2 separate regions of the Homo sapiens genome follow, and region 2 is linked to region 1. A link means that fine-mapping ties the variant in region 1 to the expression of a gene that starts in the linked region. Tissue or cell type: skeletal muscle. Region 1 holds a variant in brackets; the other region holds the start of a gene. All regions are shown on one strand. Distances are from middle to middle.

What was found. PIP is the estimated chance that this variant, and not a neighbour inherited with it, causes the effect.
Region 2: LZTS3 starts here. The variant in region 1 is fine-mapped to the expression of LZTS3 in skeletal muscle (GTEx, PIP 0.97).

Annotation. Positions count from the first base shown.
Region 1 is chr20:2,732,409-2,740,510 of GRCh38, reverse strand. All of the region lies in intron 6 of EBF4 (EBF family member 4), which reads right to left. Among named protein-coding and RNA genes, the nearest start is that of EBF4, 44 kb to the right of the region's middle. RefSeq lists an enhancer at 1,368-1,949. The variant C/T (reference allele first, on the strand shown) is at 3,304.
Region 2 is chr20:3,168,789-3,176,890 of GRCh38, reverse strand. It overlaps LZTS3 (leucine zipper tumor suppressor family member 3), which reads left to right and starts at 3,342. Exons shown (of 5, transcript NM_001365618.1): 1 at 3,342-3,436. It overlaps LOC107985414 (a long non-coding RNA gene), which reads right to left and starts at 3,201. Exons shown (of 2, transcript XR_001754477.2): 1 at 2,701-3,201. RefSeq lists a silencer at 3,119-3,458.

The sequences.
Region 1 (8,102 bases):
GAGCCCGAGTGCATTTTCCACTACAGGTCTGTCAGGGGCAAGGAAGAACGTGTCTAGATTACAGTGCTCCCTAAGGGAACTTTTTCCAGAATGATATGCATTAGCCACGCATGGCTACTAAGCACTGGAAATGTGGCTAGTGCAACTGAGGAACTGAATTTTATTTCATTTTAATTAACATAAATCTATTTTTTTTTTGAAACGGAGTCTCGCTCTGTTGCCCAGGCTGGAGTGCAGTGGCGTGATCTCGGCTCACTGCAACCTCCACCTCCTGGGTTCAAGCGATTCTCCCGCCTCAGCCTCCTGAGTAGCTGGGACTAAAGGCGACTGCCACCATGCCCAGCTAATTTTTGTATTTTTAGTAGAGACAGCGTTTCACCATATTGGTCAGGCTGGTCATGAACTCCTGACCTCTGGTGATCCACCCGCCTTGGCCTCCCAAAGTGCTGGAATTACAGGCGTGGGCCACTGCGCCCAGCCATTTTAATGAACATAAATCTAAATAGTCACATGTGGCTCGAGACTACCATATTGGACAGTGCAGATCTAGAAAGAAGGTATGCAGTGAATGGATATACGAGCTGGGGCAGGATGTTCCAAACAACAGTGTGTCCTGTGAAGGCCTTGGGAAAGACAGCAGGTTAAGAGTGAAGGGTAGATTAAATTGGATATGTGTTTCCAAGCCCAAAGCTGGCACTGCAGCCTGAGATGGGGAAATAAGGGGACAGGGATCTCCGCTAATTTTTATCCTAAAAGATTTGTCTTGGGCTCCCATGAGCCTCCGAAGAAACTGAAGCAGTTTCTGGCTCTCCAGCGTGTTCACTGTCTGCTTCTCTCTACCCTCAGCTCAGGGACAGAGGAGGACACAGAGGGCTGGGCCATTCATCCCCTCATTCATTCCATACACCCACTTAAAAAGATTTATTAAATACCTTCTATGTGTTAGGCACTGCGGCATTGTATAAAATCTTAAGGAAATTACAACCCAACAGGAAAGAGAAACTCAGGAAGACAGAGTGGTGGGCACGGCAGGAGGATGTGCCAAGTGTAATCTGCAGTGGCCACTTATTTTGCCTAGGGGAGGCGGAATGCTTCCTAGAGCTCCAATTTGGTCTTGGGTGATGGGTCTTGGAGGATCTCACCGAGAAGTAGGAGGCAGGGCCCTCCATGCAAAGGGACTAACAGCTCCACCACGGGGCAGACGGCTCACTCGATCAGTGGTGCCTGACAAGACTGAGGAGGGCAGCGTGGCTTGGGGCCTGGGGTTGGGACCAAATCATGCGGGACTTGGATCCTCTGGGTGATGGGAAGGCTACAGGGGATGTCTCCCTTCAGGCAGAAACAGGCACCAAAGGGCCTACGCTAGAGAAGGGAAGGGAAATGAGGAGCTTACTGTAATAGTTCAGGCCCATGTGGGGTTGGCCCAGGCTGCTTCCTGGTCTTAGCCTGCGGTAGAAGCCAAGATAGACTGTCCCCAGGGCCACAGCCACCTGCCAGGCCTGGACCTGGCCTCCCCACCATGATCCCCACCCGGGTAGAGGTGGCTGCAGTGCAGATGGGCTGGAGGACTATAAATAGCCAGGGCGCATACATTAGCATGCCAATGCACCCGCACCCCATCCTCTATGCTAATGGCCCACCATGCGCCTGAACACCTTCTGTTCCCCTGCATGCATTTGCATGCACAATTAGCATAATCTTGTATAATTAATGAACAGCGTCAATTTTAGCTCCTAAGTAATTTGATTAACATGTTGATAGGGCACTTACTAGGCTCTCCAAACCTCAGGGCTGGGCATGGGGCCTGAGGAGAAGGGGAGGGGGTGTGGAGAGACTGCTAAGGGGCCCCCAGCTGCCCACCAAGAGTGGCAGTGGCTCCACTTTCCCCAAACCAGGCCTGAGGGGAGAGGAGGAAGGGTGGAGTGGCCACTAATGGGAGGCCTCTGGGCATGCCACATGCAGCGGCAGGAAGGGGCTGGTGCATGGTCACCATGGTGTGCCTGTGTGGACACAGATGTACACATGCACCCACACAAGTCCTCTCAAGCCTGGGGAGTCTTCTGTCAATGCAGGCTATCAGAGTCCACGAACAGAAGAGAAGGAGAGATAGAGAAAAAGGAGGGAGGAGGGGGGATGGGGCATGGACGGCAGCAGAAGCCACAGAGCTGGAAGGGGTGCTTGCAAGTCAGAAAGAGATTTAAAGGAGAAGGTGGGAGTCTGAAGGAAAGAAGTTGTGGGTTCCTCTGGCCTTGGGCAGAGGTGGTGGTGTAGATGAGACCCAGGCTCTAAGACCAGAGACCTTGGCACCTCTTATCTATGAATCAGGTGAGAGGTGGGTAGCGGGTATTAGCAAGGCCTGGCATCTTCTACAATTCACCAAGCACCCAGGGCAGAGAGAACAGACAGAAGATTAAGTGAGAATGTCCCCCTTCCTATTCAGAGAAAGACCCATCCCCAGCCTGGGATGTCTACCCCTGACTGTGGGCTCTGGTTCTGGAGGCAGGACGTTCCTCCTTGGTTCCCACTGAACTTTTTTTTTTTTTTTTGAAATGGAGTCTCGCTCTGTTGCCCAGGCTGGAGTGCAATGGCGCGATCTCGGCTCACTGCAACCTCTGCCTCCTGGGTTCAAGTGATTCTCCTGCCTCAGCCTCCTGAGTAGCTGGGACTACAGGTGCCATTTTTTTTTTTTTTTTCACATTTTTAGTAGAGACGGGGTTTCACCATGTTGGCCAGGCTGGTCTCAAAGTCCCGACCTTAAGTGATCCGCCCACCTCGGCCTCCCAAAGTGCTGGGATTACAGGTGTGAGCCACTGCGCCCGGCCTGAACTTTCTTGCTGCCGTCCAGGCTCAGCTGCACTTACTCTAAGATGATCGGTAAGGGTGGGGTGGCAGGAGGGTAAGAAATGACTCTGAGGCAGTCACTGTGCTGGGCACTGCATGAATACATCCTACTAACTCCACAGCATCCTCTCCTTCCCAGAATCACAGGAGGCTCATTGGTCAGCTCTATTTTACACATTAGGGAACTGAAGCTCTGGGAGGTGAGAACTTGCTCCCAGTTACATAGCCAGACATCCCAGGTTGGCTTGAGTCCCCAGCCCTCAATAACTCTCCACTTTGTGGAGAAAGCTTATTATTCAAGTTGCAGGCGGTTCACTCACTAGCCGCCTCCACTCCACCTATTATGGTTCCCAGGCTGCCTCATGCCTGCGGTCCCCCTCTTCCCCCAATCTTCTTTTCTTTTCTTTTTTTTTTTTTTTGAGACGGAGTTTCGCTCCTGTTACCCAAGCTGGAGTGCAGTGG[C/T]GCGATCTCGGCTCACTGCAAGCTCCGCCTCCCGGGTTCACGCCATTCTCCTGCCTCAGCCTCCCGAGTAGCTGGGACTACAGGCGCCCGCCACCACGCCCGGCTAATTTTTTGGTATTTTTAGTAGAGACGGGGTTTCACCGTGTTAGCCAGGATGGTCTCCATCTCCTGACCTTGTGATCTGCCCACCTTGGCCTCCCAAAGTGCTGGGATTACAAGCGTGAGCCACCGCGCCCGGTCCTCTTCCCCCAATTTTCTATGGAGGCACTGTCCAAATCTCTGCTCCTGTCTCAGCATGGAGGCCAGTCTGGCCCTAAGCTTGGCTTCGGCTGCCCAGAGGTCTCCTCATAAGTCCTTCCTCTTCATTAGGGGTCCTTTGTCCTTATGACTGGCATCTCAGCCTATATGACCTTCGGAGCACATGAGCGAATCTCTCTTGAACCCCCTCTGCTTCTCCCTCTCTCAAATGCTCTCAGCTCTGAAAAGAGTGGTGGGGGTTGGGGGGAATGGGGAAGGAAGTGCAGTGCATTCAGGTGGCAAGAGGGAAACCTTAGTCTCACCTCAGCACTGACCCAGCAGGGAGGTTCTGGAACCTCAAGGGGGATTGCCAGAATGGATCTGGACAGAAGTCTGTGCTTGCAGCATGAGTGTGGGAGATCCTGCTGGAAAGCGTGGAAGGAGATGGATGACATTGGGCTAGTTTTGTGGCTGTAGAGGAAAACAGGGAATGTTGCATTGACCAGTGGATTAGGAAGGGGGCTGATTCTTTTGCAGTTCCCACAGCCCCTTTCATCTAATTGCACTTATAATGTGCCTGATCTAGGGTCTAAATTTGCCCCCAATAGAGTAGACCAGAGCTTACCTTTGCCAGGTGGCTCGGACCTAAACTATTCCAATAGTGTCACTGAACAACACCCACCAGGCAGCAGGCACAATTAAATGCCAGGGAGTATCCATAGCCCCCAGCTTCTATCTATCCCTAGGAGCCAGAGAAGAGCTATGAGCCTCCCATGGGAGGGTATGTTTCCCTACCCCTGCCACAGGGTCATCCTGGCCAATCAAGCAAATATTTAAAGTCTTAGAGCTGTGATGTCAGATACAGTAACCATGTGTTATTTCTTAAATTTGATTTAAATTAAACACAATTAAATATTCAATTCCTCAGTCACGGTAGCTACAGTTCAAGTGCCCAATAAATATGTGTGGCTATTGGCTACCATATTGGTTGGTACAGAATATTTTCATCATTGCAGAAAGTACTATTGGATAGTGTGGTCTTCAAGCCTTACATTGTTTTCTATTTCTTCTTATTATTATGTAATTATAGATAATCTCTACTGACCTTTCTTCAAGTACACGAATTTTTTTCAAAATTATAAATTGTTGTTTACATAATTATATTTGTCTCCTCAACTGCTCTGTAAGCTCTCAGAGGGCAGGGATCATTGTTTAAGCCTCTCTTCTCCCAAGCATCCATCATAGTCCCAGCCCCACAACAGGTGCTGATTGATTCATGATAGAATTCAAGAGTCAAAAATTACTGTGACTGGATGAATGCTGGACTAAAGCCCCCAAGGCACTTTTAACTTGTGCCCAGGTAAGAAATAACAATTACAGGGACAGGACTTTGGGAATTGCTAAGTAAAGACCTCTGAAAATCCATTCTTCCATAAAGAAACAAGAACACTGGCAAACATGGTCAAAATCAACTTTCTCAGAACTCTAAAAATTAACAACATGTGTGCAACAACTCAAGGAACATTGAGGCAAGAAAAATGGCTGAGTTGTAATAAGAACAGAAAGCTTTGTGGTGTTTTAATTTGCCCTATTCCCATCCCCTACTCCCCAGCCCTGTTGAAGACCAGCTACCTTGCAACCACTATTGTAGTTGTGAAAACTAGCAAGCTAGCAACCATAGGAAGGGGTAGAGTGGGTTTGGAGCCTCTCAACAAGCTGTATTCCCAGTCAGTTTTCACTCTTTAACCTTTCTAGCAACTCCCTGACAGCTTTATTTGCAGAACTTGTTATTTGACCCGATTCAGAACTTACTTAGTGGGAAAGACCCTATCTTCAGGGTGTTTGTTGAAAACAGCCAGCGGCAATTGCTTAACATTGCAGCTACATGAGGCAGCAATACAAGTTGGGGGCAAATAAAAGTTTGGCCATAATATTTTAAAGGAAAAAGTGGGGAATAAGATGTTCACAGGGGCTCTGAAAAGCTCTGACATATTCCTGGAGATCTAGAAAGCTATGCATATGTGCAGGGAGAGGCACATGCCCAAAAAAGGCATGGAAAGCCCCTGGTCTCTCACCTCTGGTTTATCCCAAGGCCCTGAGCAAGCAGGAAGTGAAGGTCAAGGCAGAGTTGTAAATCGCTGGAGCACTGAAGGCATGTCTTAACACACATACAGAACCTTTTGGCAATGGGTTGAACACTTATTGGCATTCAAGGCATTTAAAGAAATGCCTGTCCAATCATGGCCTGATAACTAAGCCAAGAGCAGAAACTTCAGTGATTATACATGACAGGAAATATAGACTTTATATAATTAGTCCAAGAAAATCACTAAACAAACAAACAGCAATAGCAATAAGAACAAAATTGGGAGGGAGGATCTGATTGCCAGAGTGCAACATTATATGATTAAAATGTCCAGTTTTCAACAAACAATTATGAGACATGCAAGGTACAGGAAAGTAAGACCCATACATTGTAATAAAGCAGCCAACAGGAACTATCCCTGAGGAAGCCCAGAGGTTAGAATTTTTAGACAAATACTTTATTAATTAATTTATTTTTGGAACAGGGTCTTGCTCTGTTGCCCAGGCTGAAGTGCAGTGGTGTGATCATGGCTCACTGAAGCCTTGACCTCCCAGGTTCAAGTGATCCTCCCACCTTAGTTCCCAAGTAGCTGGGACTACAGGTATGAGCCACCATGCCCAGCTAATTTTTGTAGGTTTTTGTAGAGACAGGGTTTCACCATGTTGCCCAGGCTGGTCTCAAACTCCTAGGCTCAAGCAATCTGCCCTTCTCTGCCTACCAAAATGCTGGGATTATAGGAGTGAGCCACTGCAGCTGGCATAGATAAAGACTTTAAATGAGCAATTATAAATATGTTCATAGAACTAAAGGAAACTATGTCTAAAAAATTCAAGAAAAGTATGAGAATGAAGTCACACCAAAAAAATCAATAAAGGATTTCAAATTATATTTTTAAAAACCCATGAAATTCTGAAGTAGAAAAGAACAATAAGTAAAATTTAAAAATACCTGGAACAAGCTTCTCTAACCTGCGACCCACGGGGCACATGCAGCCCAGGTTGGCTTTGAATTAGCCTGCAAATTTGTAAACTTTCTTATTATGAGATGTTTTTGCTTTTTTTTTTTTTTTCTCATCAGCTATCGCTAGTATTAATGTATTTTATGTGTGGCTCAAGACAAGTCTTCTTCCAATATGGCCCACGGAAGCCAAAAGATTGGACACCCCTGACCTAGAGGAACTCAACAACATATCTCATTTGGTGGGACGAAAAAAAATCAGTATACTTGAATATAGGCCAATTGAGATTATCTAGCTCAGAAGCAGAAAGAAAAAAGAATGAAGAAAAATGAACAGAGCTTAAGAGACCTGTGGGAGCCATCAAGCATACCAGTATATGTATAATGGGAATCTGAGAAGGAGAGTAGAGATGGAACAGGACAGAAAAATATTCAAGAAAATGCCCCTAAATTTCCTAAATGTGCTCAGTAATGAAAAACATTATTGAGCACATCTTAAGAAGCTCAGTAAACTCCAAGTAGTATGAACACAAAGTGTATGATCTATACAAAGACACATCATACTCAAACTTTTGAAAGCCAAAGAAAAAGAAAGGATCTGAGAAGCAATGAGAGAGAGAGAGAAGTAACTCGTCATATATAAGGAATCCTTAATAAGATCACCACATAACTTCTGAAACCATGAAGGACAGAAGGCAGTGAGATGATATATTGTGTTAAAAGAAAACAACTATCGACCAAAAAATTGCATGTCCAGCAAAACTATCAACTTCTAAAATGATCAACTTCAAAAATGAAGGAGAAATTGAGACATTTTCAGATAAACAAAAACTGAGAGGATTCATCACTAACAGGTTTGTCCTACAAGAAATACTAAAGGGAGTCCTTCAGTCTGAAATGAAACAAGACAAGACAGTAATATGAATTAACATGAACAGATAAAGAGCACTGGTAAAAGTCACTACATAGGTAAACATAAAAGACAGCATAAATGTATTTTTGTTTGTAATGATTTTGTTTTCCTATCTAATTTAAAAGACAACTGCACATTTGTGGGGATAGGGGATATATGGGAACTCTTTATAATTCCGTCTCAAAAAAAAATAAGAAAAAGAAAAAATAAAAGAAAAAGAAAACACAAAGCACAATGGCAGACATAAATCCTGTTCTATCAGCAATTACATTAAATATAAATGGATGAAATGCTTCATTAAAAGGAAGAGATTGGCAGAATGGATTAAAAAAGAAAACTACAACACAATCCAACTATATGCTGTCTATGTGAGACATACTTTAAATTCAAATGTACAAAAGGCTTTGAAAATAAAGGGATGGAAAAAGAGATAACATGTGAACCCTAACTGAAAGATAGCTGGAGTGGCTATACTAATTTATGAATAGACACTAAGATAAAAATTATGAGAGACAAAGAAGGACATGTTATAATGATAAAAGTGTCTATCATCAGAAAGAAATAACAATTATAAGCATGTGTATCTAATAACAGTCCGGGTGTGGT
Region 2 (8,102 bases), 440 kb before region 1:
TGGCCAGGCTGGTCTCAAACTCCTGACTTCAGGTGATCCACCTGCCTTGGTCTCCCAAAGTGCTGGGATTACAGGTGTAAGCCACCATGCCCAGCCCAATTTTTAAATTTTTTTGTAGAGACAGGGTCTCCCTATGTTGTCCAGGCTGGTCTTGAACTCCTGGGCTCAAGCCATCCTCCTGCCTCGGCCTCCTAAAGTGTTGAGATTATAGGCGTGAGCAACGATGCCGGCCACCAGAACCTTTTTTGGACATATTTCTTGGATGATGTTTTTAATATCTTTGTTATCCTTGTAATTTTATTTCCCAGAAAATGAGCCCCTTTATCAAGGTTTTCAGGGCCGGGCACGGTGGCTCAGTTCTGTAATCCCAGCACTTTGGAAGGTGGAGGAGGGTGGATCACTTGAGGCCAGGAATTCGAGACCAGCCTGGCCAACATGGCGAAACACTGTCTCTACTAAAAATACAAAAAATTAGCTGGGTGTAATGGTGCACGCCTGTAATGCCAGCTACTGAGACTGAGGCAAAAGAAGCACTTAAACCCGGGAGGCGGAGGTTGCAGGGAGCCAAGATCATGCCACTGCACTCCAGCCTGGGTGACAGAGCAAGACTCTCTCAAAAAAAAACAACTTGTGTGATCATTAATCAGCAGGTGACAAATCATCTTAAGCAACAACAAAACAAAACAAAACAAAGTATTGATTAGTTCACTGAACTGATGAACCTAGATACAAATAGTCTAATCTCAGCACTTTGGGAGGCCGAGGCGGGCGGATCTCAAGGTCAGGAGTTCGAGACCAGCCTGACCAACATAATGAAACCCCGTCTCTACTAAAAATACAAAAATTAGCCCGGCGTGGTGGTGGCACATGCCTGTAATCCCAGCTACTCAGGAGGCTGAGGCAGGAGAATTGCTTGAACCCAGGAGGCGAACGTTGCAGTGGGCTGAGATTGCACCATTGCATTCCAGAGGGAGACTCCATTTCAGAAAAAAAAAAAAAAAAAAAAAAAAAAAAAGTCTAGTTCATAGTTGCTCTGAAAGAAAGGAAGGGGATTGCATTAGTTATTCATTCAATAGTTACACACTATGCTAGAGTTTGTGTAAATTTTAAGTGAGACTCTGTCTCAAAAAAACAAAAAAGTTTTCATATGCATTGGACCAGAGTCAGATATAGATAGTATTCTCTTATTTTCCTGGTGTTCTTTTAAAGATGCAAAACCACATTAGTCTATGAAATAGGAATGGAGACTACAAAGAGAGATTAAGTTGAGATCAAGACAGAGGTGGAATGGAAATTGGCTGAAAGAAAAATAAAACAAGCAGAATCAAATGTCTTATTGGAGAAAATAAACAGTACTCTTGGCTCTGAAGAAAATTAAATCCGTAATGGTGAAGAAAAACTTGATATAGTCTCCCAGGGTGCAGAGAAAACAAACAGATTTATTTGACATTGGTGATCCAATGTGATAGTTTTAGAGGAGAGGAAAGAAAAAAACCCAAATCTTTTCACAGAATGGACAGGAAGAAAACTTTTCTAAGCTACAAAGAAGACCTCTTTTGTTTCTGGAAAATTAATAGATAAGGCCCATATTGATTTATACTGGCAAAATGTTTGACTTTTGAGGGTAAAGAAAAACCCTTGCAAGCACCAAGCAAACTGCTGACCTTAAACAGACAAACCCAGCTTTGCATTTTCAGTGCCAGAAGACAATGAAATAAAGACAAGAGTTTTGAGGGGGAAAGCTTGAGACTCAAGAATCCTATAAACAGGAAATCATTATAAAGGCATTCTCACCTAAGGCAAAGGCTTAGGAAATACAACATTCCAGAGTCCTCCCTGAAATCACCAGTCATGTGAGAGATGGGTCCAAATGAGGAATAGAAAAATTAGAGCACAAAAAACCGGCAGTAACATTGAAACCAATTAAACAGAGTTGGCAAAAGCCAAAAACAAGGATTGAAAAAGAATGTTGTGGCTTAAAAAAAAAGTGTAAACAAAAGTTAGGTCTGTCGTCCTGATTAAGTGGACAAATATAAGTAGTGAGGGCGGCAGGTAGGAGGCAGAAAAGCACACAAAATTTCTCATGGGGGAATATAAAAACGAATTATTTGTCACTGACTTTACTAATGTGTGAAATGTAAACTATTTTCATTTGATAAATCTAAAGGCAGCCGCGAGAAGAATTAAAAATACTTTCTGCCTTGAAAATCACGATAGAAGATAAAAGCAAATGTGGGAAAATTCAGAAAACAGGAATAAATAAAAACTATAGAATACGAAGTCGTAAGACCAAACACAACACCTATAAACAGCAGAGACGTAATGCGTTAAATCCCAGCCAGAGCAGAGGCGCTGCAGTTCTTAGGGCAGACCCTGGTGCCTCCAGGCTTTTGCTAGTGCTAAACTCTCGGCTAGGCTTGCCTCCCTACCCTATTCAAGGCTGAGGCCTCAATTCAAGGCCGACTCCCTCCTCCCGGCAGTCCTCCCGGGCCGCCCTAGGCTGAGTGAGCACTCCCCACAGTGAACGCTGCCCGCGCGGGCGAGGCCGGCGCTCCGGGTCCGGTACGAAGTCCCACCTCACTCCCTCTCACCCCGGGTTACAGCGTGTGGTCTGGGGCCACGCGTTACGCCAGGCGCGGGGCACAGGGTGAAAGCGTTCAATCCTGCTGGAGTGTAATGTGTATTTTTTCCCCGTCGCACCTTCCAGACGGTGATCCAGTGTGAGCAGCAAGTTTCAAATCGTCTCCGTTTGGTCACGAACGGAGTTTACTGCCCCTCGACGCCTCCCGCACGACAGCCCGTGGTCCTCGCGCCCGGGCGGGTCGTTGCTCGGCCGGGCGGATCCACCCGCGACGGCTCGTCCCGACCCCTCCCTAGCGGACTTGCAAGGTCTCAGGGCGTCCGCTGGGAGGCCGCGTCCCGAAGAGCTGGCGCGGGAGAGGAATGGGGCTCGGGGCTCCGAGTCGGGAGCCCCTTCCCCCAAGCAAGAGGGGCTCCTCCTCCTCTTCCTAGACGTGGGATTCAGGGAGGGCGCGGTTCCATTGGATTTGTTGCAGAGGAACGACTGGGCCTGAGCCCAAGCCCAAGGGCCTGGGGGGTAACGAGCGATGAGCAGAGGGGCTCGCGGCGGACTTGCTGCGCCCTAGAGAGGGTGAGGCTGAGGGGTCCCACGCGCGGGCGGGGCGCAGCGACGAAGGGGTTAAGGCGCCTCACCCCGCCCCAGCCCGGGCATTGGCTGCCCTGGGGGGCGTGGCCGGAGGGCGGGCTCGCGTTTGCCGCAGCCGCTGGTGGGCGGGGCTCGGGCGGGGAGCAGGAGGGGCGCGGAGCGGAGCCGGGCCCGCGCAGCGCGCCCCGCCGGGCGTGCTTCGGGCTGCGCCAGCAAGCGGGGCCGGTGGCGCCCGTGTCGGAGACCCCGCGCCGGACCCTGAGGCAGCGAGTAAGTGAGGCAGGCCCATCGTGGCATCCCTCCCGGCTCCGACCTGCCGCCGTGCCTGCTGCACTGCGCGGCATGTCTGACCTGACCCGGACTGGGTAGGGGGCGCGTCCCGCTGCTAGGGTCCCAAGGGGGAGGGGAGCGGAGAGGAGGCGGATGATGTCATGGATGCTTCGCCCGGCCTGGGGGGAGGTGGCGGCCAGAGGGGGTGCGGCTCGGATTATGTCACCTCTTCCCTCTGCGCCCCGCCCCCCGGGGCCACACGCGTTGGTGGGGAGCCTGGGGAGGTGCGGGCGGGGTTTCCCCCATCGCAGGGACTCCCAGGTCCTGTGGCCTGTGGCTGGGGTCTCTATCAGTTGGCTCTGCGGGCCGTGGGCTGCTGGTGAATGGCGACCCCCCCTCCCACCCCCAGCAGAAGCTCGTGTGTGCGCGCGTGTGTGTGCTCGGGGTGGAGGGGGCGCTCTCGGCCCCCTCAGTCCTGAAACACTGGCTTCATCAGAGCCAGTAGCTAGGTGATGGGCCCATTCCGCTGCCAGTGCTTAGGCCACCGAGGGAAGACGGATCTCCCCTCACTCATCCCAACCAAGAAGTTCTGGATATCTCTGCACCCCAAAAGCCCTGCAGTGCCCCCAGATCCCTTTCCTCCCTCAGTCCTGCTTCCTGGAAACCCCTCCTGCTCTCCCTGCCCGGATTCACTGCCTCTTTGCATTGCCCATAACTAGCATTCCCACAGGCATTTGCCCTGCATTTCCTTGGTGCAGGGCCCAGAGACCCCCAGGACTCTGCCCTCTGTGCTCCTGGGAAACCTATAGGCCAGCCCTGGGGAGGCCTCAGAGTGAAATCTCCCTGGGGTGTCCTCAGCCAAGTGCTCCAAGATGCCCCCTCTGGGGGGTGGAGATCAGGGATGCTGTCCTGAGGCCAGCCTTTGAACTGGTCTAGAAGCATGTAGGATGGGCACAGAGAGCTGGCAAGAGCTTGTGTGTGAAGTAGAGAGGGGCTCAGGTCAGGGTAGATAGAGGAGGGGCATCAGGAGAGTCCTTGGGGACCCTGCTGCAAGCTCTGCTCTGGTTCTGGGGACCAAGAGGAATACCAGGCATTTCACCCATCATACATTTACTTCTTAAAATGCCTGCAATGTAGGTGTGAGAACCCGAGGTGAAATAACCTGCATGAGGTTGCACCCCTAATCAGTCAAGCTGGGATTTACACTTGGAGCTGATGCTGCCAGAACTCTGTCTACTGCACTTGGTCTTGCTCATGGAAGGATTTGGACAGAGCAGGGGCAAGATCAGCTTTGCCCTTTAGAAGGAATCCCCTGGCAGCTGCCTGGGGGAGGGAGTGCAGGAGAAGAAAGTCCATTGAGGAGCCCCCAGCAGGGGTGCTGGATGGAGGGGCTGGCTAGAGATTTTTAGGAGATAGAATGGGCTGGGGTTGGGGCCTCTGAGACCCCAAGTGTTCCTAGCTTTGGGAGAGACACAGGTTGAGGGGTGGGTTGGAGGTACCTGTACATGTAACTGTCAGGTAGAGTCCGTTTGGCCCCCTCATGACGCTAATACTGTGTATAATGCCCCAGGCACTGAGGGCTGAGGTGACAGAGATCGAGGCAGTCAGGCAACAGGCTGTCATCTCAGGGTGGTGCACTGATGCCAGGAGGCTGCCTTTGCAGACCATGCTCAGTTACCTGGACTAGTTCAGGACCGTGACCTTTCCTCTCAGTTCAGTTCCTGCTTACCAGGGAAACATCCCCTTCCTTGTCCTGCCGGTGTCCTGCTGGGATTTTTTTTTTTTTTTTTTTGAGGGGGTATCTCACTCCGTTGCCCAGGCTGCTGGAGTGCAGTGGCGCAATATCACTGCAACCTCCACCTCCTGGGTTCAAGCGATTCTCATGCCTCAGCCTCCCGAGTAGCTGGGATTACAGACACGCACCACGACGCCCGGCTATCTGCTGGGATTTTGTGGAAAGAAGCTGCAGCAGCCAAAGCTTGGGAGAGACAAGGGGCAGGGCATGCTTGCAAGGGGTTAACCATGACAGGTTACAATTACGACAAGAAGCTCTTTAGGCAGTGAGGCTCCAGAGAGAGCTTCTGTGGGTTGATAGTCAAGCATTCCCCAGGTAGAGCACGGAGAAAGGAGGCTCAGGACAATGGTCCTGGGACCTTGTTTCCATCCACGACTCGAGGCATCTGAGACTTGCTAGGGACTACACACACTCTAGAGAAACAGTAGGGGAGAGTGGCCTATGACCAGCCCCAACCTATGCTCAGGTTGTCCTTTCCCGGATCTCAGAGAAGGTGTACTACATGTTTGTATTGCCCCTTATAGTTTACAAAGCACCTTCCCAAACATTATACCCTGTCACTCAAGGTCAACATGATCACTGTTGAGGTTTATTCCTGCCCAGATCCAGGTATCTGGTGCAGTCACCTTGCTATCCCCTTGCCTAGATCTTTCATCTCACTATTGGCAACTTCCCTCAGCATATTAACACACAGGTTTCTACCATGGTTAATTTTAAAATTAAAAAAGCCCTTGAATCTCAAACCTCCTTAAATAACTGTCTTCTCTTTTAGCAGGAACTCTGCCATGTCTTTCTCTGCACTCCTCTAGCCTTGTGGACTGCCTTTGTTTTGTACCACTTTTTTTGTTCTGTTTTGTTTATTTGTTTGAGAGGGAGTCTTGCTCTGTCACCTATGCTGGAGTGCAGTGGTGCGATCTTGGCTCACTGCAACCTCCACCTCCTGGGTTCAAGCCATTCTCCCGCCTCAGCCTCCTGAGTAGCTGGGATTACAGGCATGCACCACCACACCCAGCTAATTTTTTTGTATTTTTAGTAGAGGCAGGGTTTCGCCCTGTTGGTCAGGCTGGTCTCGAACTCCTGATCTTAGGGGATCCACCTGTCTTGGACCTCCCTAAGTGCTAGGATTACAAGCGTAAGCCACCGCGCCAACCTGTTTTTTTTTTTTTTTTTTTTGATGTAGTCTCGCTCTGTCTTCCAGGCTGGAGTGCAGTGGCATGATCTCGGCTTACTGCAACTTCTGCCTCCCGGGTTCCAGTGATTCTCCCACCTCAGCCTCCTGAGTAGGGGATTACAGGCGCGCACCACCACGCCCAGCTAATTTTTTGTATTTTTAGTAGAGACGGGGTTTCACCACGTTGGCCAGGCTGGTCTCGAACTCCTGACCTCAAGTGATTTGCCTGCCTTGGCCTCCCAAAGTGCTGGCATTACAGGTGTGAGCCACCGCATCCGGCACTTGTACCACTTTTCTGAAACCATTCTGACATAGACATTGGTGATGTCTCGAGACCAGCTCCTAAATCCGCAGCACACTCTCCAACCCCAGTGTTACCTGGCCCTGTTATTTTTAACACTGGAAACTGTCCCCACATTCTTGAATCCCCCCAATCTTGGCCTTCAGGGCCCACCTTCTCCTGGCCTTCTTCCTGCTCCCAGAGTGCCTTCCAGACTTCTGGGGCTTTGCTCCCTGGCTCAGTGCTGGCCTACACCCCCAGCACCCTTGAAAACTGATGATCTCAATCTCTCTCCATCTAGTGCTTTTTTTTTTTTTTTTTTTTTTTTTAAGGAAAGAGTCTCGCTCTGTCACCCAGGCTGGAGTGCAGTGGTGCAATTACAGCTCACTGCAACCTCTGCCTCCTGGGTTCAAGGGGGTTCTCGTGCCTCAGCCTCCCAAGTAGCTGGGATTACAGGAATGCATACCGCACCCAGCTAATTTTTGTATTTTTAGTAGAGATGGGGTTCCACCAATTTGGCCAGGATGGTCTTGAACTCTTGGCCTCAAGTAATCTGCCCACCTTGACCTCCCAAAGTGCTGGGATTACAGGCATGAGCCACCTTGCTTGGCCTCCATTTAGTGCTTGAGAGGTATCTTCCTCTGGTGTTTCCCAAAGCAACTATTTTCCCCAAGCAGTCTCCCCCTATCATGTTAACAGTGTCACACGCACGCTGGTGCCCAGTCCAGCATTATCCCTTGTCCCCACCACCTGACCTCATCTGTATGAAATTTTGCCAGTTCTTTCCCAAACCCTGCCCAGGCCTTCCTACTGGTTCCAAGCCTCAGGCCTTTCAGGCTTCATCCTCCCAGTCCCCAGCTGCTCCCCACATTGCACCCAGAGGTGGCAAGAGAAGGGTCCATACTTAAGGTAGGAGGGGGTTGCAGGGCTGAGGCATAGGGGGCTGGAGTATGCTGGGGAGTAGAGGCAGAGCAGGGACTAGAGTGAGGCCAGAGAGGGACCCAAGGCACAAAGGGAAGGAGGCTGTCACCCTCAGGGCTGTGTACTTGCTGTTTGTGCCCTTCATTTGTGCCCTACGTGGCTCTCTGTCCTCATCCTAGTCCTGGCCCTTGCTTATGGGGACAGACGGGTCCAAGGGAGGAGGGTGGCGAAGTGCTCTTCTCCACACCTGTGGGGACAGATGCTGAGAATGGAATTCTACAGAGACAGTGGACAGGCTTGGTAGTGAACTTTCCAACAACCTAGAGCTCTCATTCCTGGTGTGGGGGCCAGAAGACTCCCGAAGGACAACAGTTTTGTCAGGTGCCCTTGGTCTGGGCCAGGGACTCAGCATTAGAACTGGGCATCTGGGTAGAAGACGGTCTGTGGGGCCATAGGGTGCCACGTGGGCCCCTTAACTTGATAGGGAAGGAGGGCTCCC